3 linked regions of the Homo sapiens genome follow. The protein of the gene in region 1 interacts with the protein of each later gene in a pairwise test. Each region holds a gene or a part of one and is shown in the gene's direction. Other genes may lie near its edges.

Region 1 (2,749 bases):
GTGGGTAGGATTTAAAGACTTCTCTAGGAGCTGTGGGAGAATTTTTAAAATTCCGTTTATGTGAGATAATTCAACCTGTGTCCTAGGTTTGGAGATCGTTTCCCTGCCATGTCTGATGCCTACGACCGGACTATGAGGCAGAGGGCTCTCAGTACCTGGAAACAAATGGGGGAGCAACGTGAGCTACAGGAAGGCACCTATGTGATGGTGGCAGGCCCCAGCTTTGAGACTGTGGCAGAATGTCGTGTGCTGCAGAAGCTGGGAGCAGACGCTGTTGGTGAGAAGGGGAATTTGGCTGGAAGCTTGAAGAGGGAGGGGTTTAGCAAAATGGGAAGGGGAAGGAGTAGGAAATAACAGGCCTCATTGGACTGAGAGGATCTGATTTCAGGGAAGGGTGAATTAAACTGACTTATTGAAATACAAACTGGTGAGATTTGGTGTAGCATCAAATCTCCCTACGAAGCACCAAGGGGTTAACAGCTGCAGTGCTAATGAATGATCTATCCATGATTTGATGACTGTTTTTTGAGACGGAATGTCGCTGTGTTGCCCAGGCTGGAGTGCAGTGGCATGATCTCGGCTCACTGCAACCTCCGCCTCCCGGGTTCAAGCAATTCTCATGCCTCAGCCTTCCGAGTAGCTGGGATTACAGACGTGTGCCACCACGCCCGGTTAATTTTTGTATTTTTAGTAGAGACAAGGTTTCACCATGTTGGCCAGGCTGGTCCTTGAACTCGCGACCTCAGGTAATCCGCCCATCTTGGCCTCCTAAAGTGCTGGCATTACAGGCGCGACGCACTGTGCCTGGCCAATGTGATGACTGTTTCTAAGAATTCTAAAAAATTCACTATAGCCACCTTCTGTACCTCTAGCTGGAAGATGGAACTCTATCATTAGGATTGAGTTCAAAATTGCCACAAATATAGAAATGAAGGATTGTATTGGTAATTTTAAGAAATGTGTATTTATTTTAGGCAATACAGAAGATAATTTAGCTGCTTCTTTGGATTTGTTTTAGGTGGGGCCTTGCTCTGTTGCCAAGGTTGGAGTGCAGTGGCACCATCTCTAGCTCACTACAGTTCTGACTGCCTGGGCTCAAACAATCCTCCCACCTCAGCCTCCTGAGTAACGGGGACCACAGGCGTACACTACCACACCTGGCTAATTTTATTTATTTTTTGAGCCGAGGTCTCTTTATGTTGCCCAGGCTGGTCTCAAACTCCCGGGCTCAAGACATCCTCCTGCCTTGGCCTCCCAATGTACTGGGATTACAGGTGTGAACCACTGCACCCGGCCATCTTTGGATGTTTTTTGAGATTTTTAATTCTTGTTGAAAGCGAGGCTAAAGGGCAAGGAAAAGAGTTATTTGAGGATCCTGACAGTTGGTTTCCATCTTTCTCACTATCAGGCATGAGTACAGTACCAGAAGTTATCGTTGCACGGCACTGTGGACTTCGAGTCTTTGGCTTCTCACTCATCACTAACAAGGTCATCATGGATTATGAAAGCCTGGAGAAGGCCAACCATGAAGAAGTCTTAGCAGCTGGCAAACAAGCTGCACAGAAATTGGAACAGTTTGTCTCCATTCTTATGGCCAGCATTCCACTCCCTGACAAAGCCAGTTGACCTGCCTTGGAGTCGTCTGGCATCTCCCACACAAGACCCAAGTAGCTGCTACCTTCTTTGGCCCCTTGCTGGAGTCATGTGCCTCTGTCCTTAGGTTGTAGCAGAAAGGAAAAGATTCCTGTCCTTCACCTTTCCCACTTTCTTCTACCAGACCCTTCTGGTGCCAGATCCTCTTCTCAAAGCTGGGATTACAGGTGTGAGCATAGTGAGACCTTGGCGCTACAAAATAAAGCTGTTCTCATTCCTGTTCTTTCTTACACAAGAGCTGGAGCCCGTGCCCTACCACACATCTGTGGAGATGCCCAGGATTTGACTCGGGCCTTAGAACTTTGCATAGCAGCTGCTACTAGCTCTTTGAGATAATACATTCCGAGGGGCTCAGTTCTGCCTTATCTAAATCACCAGAGACCAAACAAGGACTAATCCAATACCTCTTGGATTTTATTTAATGTCATAATGTTGTCAGAATAAAGAGAAAGATGAAATAATTTCATTTTTTTGTGTAACTTGGTATGGGGCTGGGGCACAGACCAAGATTGACATGAAAGGATGTGAGATCGCATGTCTTGTGTGACTATCTGCTTCTCAGACAAGCAGTTAGGAACTGAGATGAGATAGTATGTGAGGGCAGCAAAGGATGAAGAAGGGCAAAATGATGAAAGGTGAGGTGGAAAGAGGTTATGAGATGGTAAAGAAAAGTTAACTTCTGGCACTTGATTGCCACTTCTGTCAGGCTGGTCCTGCCTCTCTCCCTTGCCTTCTGATTGTTTCATTTCCTGTTTATTTGATCATATCTGAATTAGTTCACTGGTTAGCCTCTTCCTTAGTTCCCACTTCCTTACCAAAGCCCTAATTATATTTCCTCTTGTTTGCCTTTTCTCTCCTACTCTTCTCTAACATCTGCAGCCACACTCTCCATTCACTCCATGCTGACAAGGCAGTGGCAAACACTTTTCTCTGCTGCCAGCCACTCCACTGTTGACTGGATTGCTGCCAGCCCCAGGCAAACCTGTGAAGTTGTTTCATACTCTGCTTCTCTTTGAGTGCCTCCTTCTCTCCTTCCTCTTCCTTTCTGGGCTCCAGTCTTTCTCTTCACTTGTGCTTGTCAGAACCTCCCTGTGAT
Region 2 (3,128 bases), on another chromosome or scaffold:
ATAATAGCGGCAGACCTGAGACCTTGGGCTAGGTAGTTTATTCTCATTTCTGAACAGATGATGAATTTTCTCAGATGACCCTAAGAAATTGTTTTACCAAAAACAAAGTGATCTATTTGCTTTGGGAGGAACTCCCTTCCTTTTGTTTCTCTTCCCTTCCCCCCTTCCCCTGCGGTTGTAGAGCCCGTTCTGTCCGGTCGTGGTTCTGTCCAGCCATGATCCGGGAGTCCTAGCTTGCTAATGGAACACCTGAGATGTTCCTTATGGCTCAAGGCTTGAATTGAAGGTGGGAACCACCTGAAGCCTCCGTGGGGAGGCCTTGCCTGAGGTTAGGTGTCTGGCATGAGTGCCGCCGGCTGGGTGTGATTTAGGTGAAGGACATCTGTAAAGGAGCGTGTCACAACCTCTGTTCCTTCTTCACATCTAGTGGTATCCTGAGGTGCGGCACCACTGTCCCAACACTCCCATCATCCTAGTGGGAACTAAACTTGATCTTAGGGATGATAAAGACACGATCGAGAAACTGAAGGAGAAGAAGCTGACTCCCATCACCTATCCGCAGGGTCTAGCCATGGCTAAGGAGATTGGTATGGAATCCTGTGTTTTTCCTCCTCCTTGTACCTCTTTTATTGTAGTGACAGAGACTGGAGTCCAGTCTGGGAAAGGAGGGTGTGTGTCTCCCACTCAGGGCCTGGTGTACTCTTGGGGAACCAGCTGGCAAGGCCCTGTGGGTCTTAACGTCAGCGTTGGAAGGTGGAAGCAGGGCTGGGAGCCGGCAGAAGGCGCCCGGGCCCCAGGAGCTGCCTCCCGCTGGTGGTGTGATCAGAAGAGAGTGGGGTCGAGTGTACATTGCCGTGTGGTCGTGTTTCCTGTAGGTGCTGTAAAATACCTGGAGTGCTCGGCGCTCACACAGCGAGGCCTCAAGACAGTGTTTGACGAAGCGATCCGAGCAGTCCTCTGCCCGCCTCCCGTGAAGAAGAGGAAGAGAAAATGCCTGCTGTTGTAAATGTCTCAGCCCCTCGTTCTTGGTCCTGTCCCTTGGAACCTTTGTACGCTTTGCTCAAAAAAAAACAAAAAAAAAAAACAAAAAAAAAAAACAACGGTGGAGCCTTCGCACTCAATGCCAACTTTTTGTTACAGATTAATTTTTCCATAAAACCATTTTTTGAACCAATCAGTAATTTTAAGGTTTTGTTTGTTCTAAATGTAAGAGTTCAGACTCACATTCTATTAAAATTTAGCCCTAAAATGACAAGCCTTCTTAAAGCCTTATTTTTCAAAAGCGCCCCCCCCATTCTTGTTCAGATTAAGAGTTGCCAAAATACCTTCTGAACTACACTGCATTGTTGTGCCGAGAACACCGAGCACTGAACTTTGCAAAGACCTTCGTCTTTGAGAAGACGGTAGCTTCTGCAGTTAGGAGGTGCAGACACTTGCTCTCCTATGTAGTTCTCAGATGCGTAAAGCAGAACAGCCTCCCGAATGAAGCGTTGCCATTGAACTCACCAGTGAGTTAGCAGCACGTGTTCCCGACATAACATTGTACTGTAATGGAGTGAGCGTAGCAGCTCAGCTCTTTGGATCAGTCTTTGTGATTTCATAGCGAGTTTTCTGACCAGCTTTTGCGGAGATTTTGAACAGAACTGCTATTTCCTCTAATGAAGAATTCTGTTTAGCTGTGGGTGTGCCGGGTGGGGTGTGTGTGATCAAAGGACAAAGACAGTATTTTGACAAAATACGAAGTGGAGATTTACACTACATTGTACAAGGAATGAAAGTGTCACGGGTAAAAACTCTAAAAGGTTAATTTCTGTCAAATGCAGTAGATGATGAAAGAAAGGTTGGTATTATCAGGAAATGTTTTCTTAAGCTTTTCCTTTCTCTTACACCTGCCATGCCTCCCCAAATTGGGCATTTAATTCATCTTTAAACTGGTTGTTCTGTTAGTCGCTAACTTAGTAAGTGCTTTTCTTATAGAACCCCTTCTGACTGAGCAATATGCCTCCTTGTATTATAAAATCTTTCTGATAATGCATTAGAAGGTTTTTTTGTCGATTAGTAAAAGTGCTTTCCATGTTACTTTATTCAGAGCTAATAAGTGCTTTCCTTAGTTTTCTAGTAACTAGGTGTAAAAATCATGTGTTGCAGCTTTATAGTTTTTAAAATATTTTAGATAATTCTTAAACTATGAACCTTCTTAACATCACTGTCTTGCCAGATTACCGACACTGTCACTTGACCAATACTGACCCTCTTTACCTCGCCCACGCGGACACACGCCTCCTGTAGTCGCTTTGCCTATTGATGTTCCTTTGGGTCTGTGAGGTTCTGTAAACTGTGCTAGTGCTGACGATGTTCTGTACAACTTAACTCACTGGCGAGAATACAGCGTGGGACCCTTCAGCCACTACAACAGAATTTTTTAAATTGACAGTTGCAGAATTGTGGAGTGTTTTTACATTGATCTTTTGCTAATGCAATTAGCATTATGTTTTGCATGTATGACTTAATAAATCCTTGAATCATACGACTGGTAATACTGGTGTTTTTGAGACTTGATGAACAAGTTCCTGGTGTGTGTTTGTTTGCCTTGCTTTAAAGTCCTGGGTTGTTGGAGACAGTCATTTTCAATGCGTGTCTCCACACAGGAGGGACAGGGAGTGCCACCTCCAGGGGAGAACTGGGTGAGCCCAAATACGGCAGGAGTGGAGGTGACATTCATGTTTGGACCTGTCGAACAGTGGCGAAGCTCTGAGGGAGAAGCGCCTATCGGGGTGTGTGTGCACATCCTGGCCCAGAGCTAGGGGCTGAAGATGGAGATGTTGGGACCCTAGACTGGCCCTGGAAGAGTAGAGGTTGGTGAACCACATGCCCTTAAGATCCTTTCCAGAGGCTGAGTGCGTGGCTTACGCCTCTAAGCCCGACGCTTTGGGAGGCTGACACAGGAGGAGCGCTTAAGCCCAGGAGTTCTAGACCAGCCTGGACAAGAAAGAGACCTACCCAAAAAAAAAATGCAAGAGCCTGAACTTGTACTACATAAAGGTTCATGTTAGAATTCGTTTTCTTAATATTCCTTTTTATTGCTTTGAAGATTGTTTTTGAGTTTTTGTTTTTTTTTTAAGATGGAG
Region 3 (3,657 bases), on another chromosome or scaffold:
TTTGTGGGCTATTCTGTTACTTATGCCACCAAACATTTTCCCACAGCAGCACCCCCAGCACATGCTGGCTGGTCACCTTTGTTCTGTTGCTCTATTAAATCCTATCTGGAGGCGTTGCTCACTGCTCACCTTGCTCAGAGAGTCCAGCTTTAGAGAGCGGCCTCTGGAGTAATGCTTGAGTTTAATGTGGAGGCTGATTATTCTCTACCTGATTAAATCTGTCTGGGGAGCATCTTTACCATGGCCAGAAGCTAACACATTTTTTTTTTCCCCTGGCTGAAAGCTTTGACACAGAACTCAGCCAAAAGAACGATTTTTTTTTAAAATGCCTGAAGTTTTGCTTGCTGCCTCCAAGGACCAAAAAAGGAGGAAAAGAAGGTCCTGAGCCCCAGGAGATCAGATTTGCTGGGAGGTCTGATTTGCTTGAGGGCAATCATGTCGTTGACTGCAGGCTGGTGGAAGGTTCTGCAGATACTCAGTGGATGTCAGAGCCGCAGCGCCACATCCATGGCCTCCCCGATGTTAATGGGAAGAGGTACACACTCCATTCCTGCTCTTCATCACAGGTAGCCCTGTTTGAATCTAAGCAGATGAATTTGAACTGCTTAATGTACTCACTGGCTTTAAGATGAGAGTAGCTACAAGATCCCCTTTCACCTCCTCTGAGAGCTCCCCAGATTGATACCACACTGCTGTGCTGTGGCATGGAGCCTAAGGCAGTACAAAGTGGCGTGACTAAAAATCTCACTCCCTTGCCGAGTTTCTGTGCTTCACCTGTGCGAGCACACGCAGCCATTCCCATCCTCACCCCTTGCCCATGAGCCTCAGGCCAGTGCTCTGGACATTTGATGGAATCACTTCAGACTGAAAATGCCTGGGGAAGGTGATCCTACTGTAGCATCATTCTACCTGCAGAGAGGTGTCTCCCCATCTTTTTGAGAGCAAGCCAGGCACGTGTTTAGAGCATGCCTTCATCCCTCATCAGACCTCCTAACCTCCCAATGTTAAGATGTTAACATTTCTAATGTCATGATTTGAACTTGAAAGAGAGGGGTGCTTACAATAGGGAAGCAGTACTGTGCAGCTCATATTGACCTCAGACCTCCTAAAAAGCTTCCCTTCCCAGATGATCTGCAGCTAACATGTTCTGCTTAATTAGGCTGAGGCTGGATTCCTTTTCCATCCATCCAAGTTAAGGACACTAACCAAGCAAAATGCCCCCTACCAAGAGAGACTTCTCATGGCCAGGATTCCACATTCTTAATTCACAAATAAGGCAAGAGACAACTGTGGGTTCATCTCATGGCTGACTCGAACTGGAACCTTCTGACCTTCACAGGGGGACTATGTTGGAGTTCAGAGTAAAGGAATAGGTTGGAGAAATCGGGTGGCAGGATGATTAGGTGACAGTTATACACTTCAGACCACAGTGAGTCTCTAACTGCAAGCTGTTGAAATGGTCAACATATTTACTTTTCTTTTTTATTTACAGGGAAGGAGATTGGTGGGAAGCCCGCTCCTTGACAACTGGAGAGACAGGTTACATTCCCAGCAATTATGTGGCTCCAGTTGACTCTATCCAGGCAGAAGAGTATGTTTCATTTTGTTTTCACTTAACTACTTGATTTTAAAAGTTGATTGCCGCAATAAAATGCCATCAGCATTGGGCAGGAGGGAGAAGAAATTCACAGCAGTGATTAAGGCTGAGTTTTTCAGGCTTTCTGCCCCGGTTTTTACCCTGTGTAATACTTGCACTATTATTAACTTAATGTTTCTCTTGAAGCCTGCTCACTTATTTTGAAAGAAAACTTTCTATCAATACCCTAAATGAAAAGCCAGTAAAACTTGTCATAGATTAAAAGTAGCCATAAAAATATGAAATGCTAGCTAGAGCATATATTATTGCCAACCCAAGTTTCTAAGCCCGCAGTCCACTCCCTCTGTTGGGAAGAGAGGGGAGAGTAGCAAGTAATTGCCACAGATTAAACTAAGATTTTTCTCCTAAGTGTGATCAGAAATATTAAAAGAGTGCTGAAAAGACACCTTCTATGCCCGGTAAAAGTGACTCACATACAGTGTGTCCCCCCAACTTGGGAAATACTACAGTGATTTGGAACCTCAGTTGGCTTCTTTGGTAGTAAACAGTGACGAGCAGTTATTTGGCCCAACTATTCAACTGGTAGCAGTTTAGGAAGGTGTTCAGTAGGCTGAAGGGATCTAAAAGGGATAACCTTTCTCCCTTCTTCTGACCCATGAGGATTAACAGGCACTCCCAAGGGGAAGAACTGCCAGTGGCTGTTTGCCAGCCCTGAGGGAAGGAGAGATGGAGCCATGATTTCCCAAATGCAGGAACTTGGCCTCCTCCTGACACCTTGGGTCTTGCCTCTCTAAAAAGGAAGTTGAGAAAAGTCAGTCACCAAGCCCAACCTTTGGCTCTGCTATTTAATTTCACCATGGATTTGTTTAAGTAGTGCAAGAGGGATTAGACTCCACACCCTAGCCAAATCCCCAGTTGGATTGTTCTATTCTTTAATTCCTTTGTATTTCCTCTAAGAGGATCTGTTTTGTTTCCCACTCTCAAATACTCAGTGGTTCTTAGTTGTTTCTTTCTCCTAGTGACTGTGTTTCGTCATCAGTGAATCAAGGTATTTGTATTTAATTTGTATTTTAGGGCAGATTTGCAAACATCTTTGTGTTCTTTCAGAATAAAAAGTACCACCAAAATGTAGCATTACCCTGATTTAACTGGGAATTTGTCAGCTATATATTTAAGTTATTTTTATAATGGTCAACTTTTTAAATATTTTGTTTTTAAAGAATATTATTTTTTAAAATAATGCCTTCGGTTTTACATATGCAATTAACTATCATTATCTTAAAATACTATTGTTTTGGTGCAATCCATTGTTCTAACAATTCCTTTTTCACCACTGTTTTACACGGCATTCTAATTGGGTTATTGGTACAAACCCAGAAAGCCATTTCTCACAAATAATTGACGTACTAGTCTTTACGCCACCTAATGCTAGATTAAGAATTGTTGCACATTTTGGTGTTTCTAAAAGTCACTGAGGAGCTAATACGCAATGTCTCTTTTCTTCAGTGAAACTTAATTCACAAAAGAATTTGACAGTGAACTCATGATACCTATATTCAAGCATAATGAATTGAAATTTCATTTTAGAATCTGGATTCTTTCACAGTTAAATATTCTAAAAATGGTTCCCACACACAGATTCCAATTGAATGCTCCAGCATTCTCCCTTGGGTTTTGGGGGCACCTGCTGCTCATTCAGCACCTAGTGCTGAAATAGTAACTAATTGCCAGGCTTGGTTAAGGCTTGAAAGTGCAGGGGGAGGATATAAGGCAAATAACAAAAGTCTTGAGGTGACTTAATGTGATGCCTCCTAAAGTGGCACAGAGTATCATTAGTTTCTTCAGGGATAATATATTGAAATATCTGCAACACCAAGTCATTTTAAGGGCATGCTTTTTGACTGGGCACAGATCTCAAAGGTGTACAGTAACCAGTTCTTACAGTTGTGCCAAAGAAAAGATGTACAGGGTCCACCGTGATGGCTCCCTCCTGTAATCCCAGCACTTGGGAGGCCAGGGCGAGAGGATCACTTGAGCCCAGGAGTTTGAGACCATGCTGG

What was found.
Region 2: the proteins of PNP (region 1) and RAC1 interact in binary tests that used the Homo sapiens proteins (3 or more experiments, as listed by UniProt).
Region 3: the proteins of PNP (region 1) and FYN interact in binary tests that used the Homo sapiens proteins (3 or more experiments, as listed by UniProt).

What each region holds. Positions count from the first base shown.
Region 1 is NC_000014.9:20,474,976-20,477,724, forward strand, and holds the end of PNP (purine nucleoside phosphorylase), read left to right. Parts: intron 1-86; coding exon 87-277; intron 278-1,408; coding exon 1,409-1,626; 3' UTR 1,627-2,114; downstream 2,115-2,749. UniProt on the Homo sapiens protein: Catalyzes the phosphorolytic breakdown of the N-glycosidic bond in the beta-(deoxy)ribonucleoside molecules, with the formation of the corresponding free purine bases and pentose-1-phosphate.
Region 2 is NC_000007.14:6,401,441-6,404,568, forward strand, and holds the end of RAC1 (ras-related C3 botulinum toxin substrate 1), read left to right. Parts: intron 1-427; coding exon 428-587; intron 588-875; coding exon 876-1,006; 3' UTR 1,007-2,527; downstream 2,528-3,128. UniProt on the Homo sapiens protein: Plasma membrane-associated small GTPase which cycles between active GTP-bound and inactive GDP-bound states.
Region 3 is NC_000006.12:111,705,856-111,709,512, reverse strand, and holds part of FYN (tyrosine-protein kinase Fyn), read left to right. Parts: intron 1-456; exon of another isoform or gene 457-507; coding exon of another isoform or gene 508-566; intron 567-1,492; coding exon 1,493-1,591; intron 1,592-3,657. UniProt on the Homo sapiens protein: Non-receptor tyrosine-protein kinase that plays a role in many biological processes including regulation of cell growth and survival, cell adhesion, integrin-mediated signaling, cytoskeletal remodeling, cell motility, immune response and axon guidance.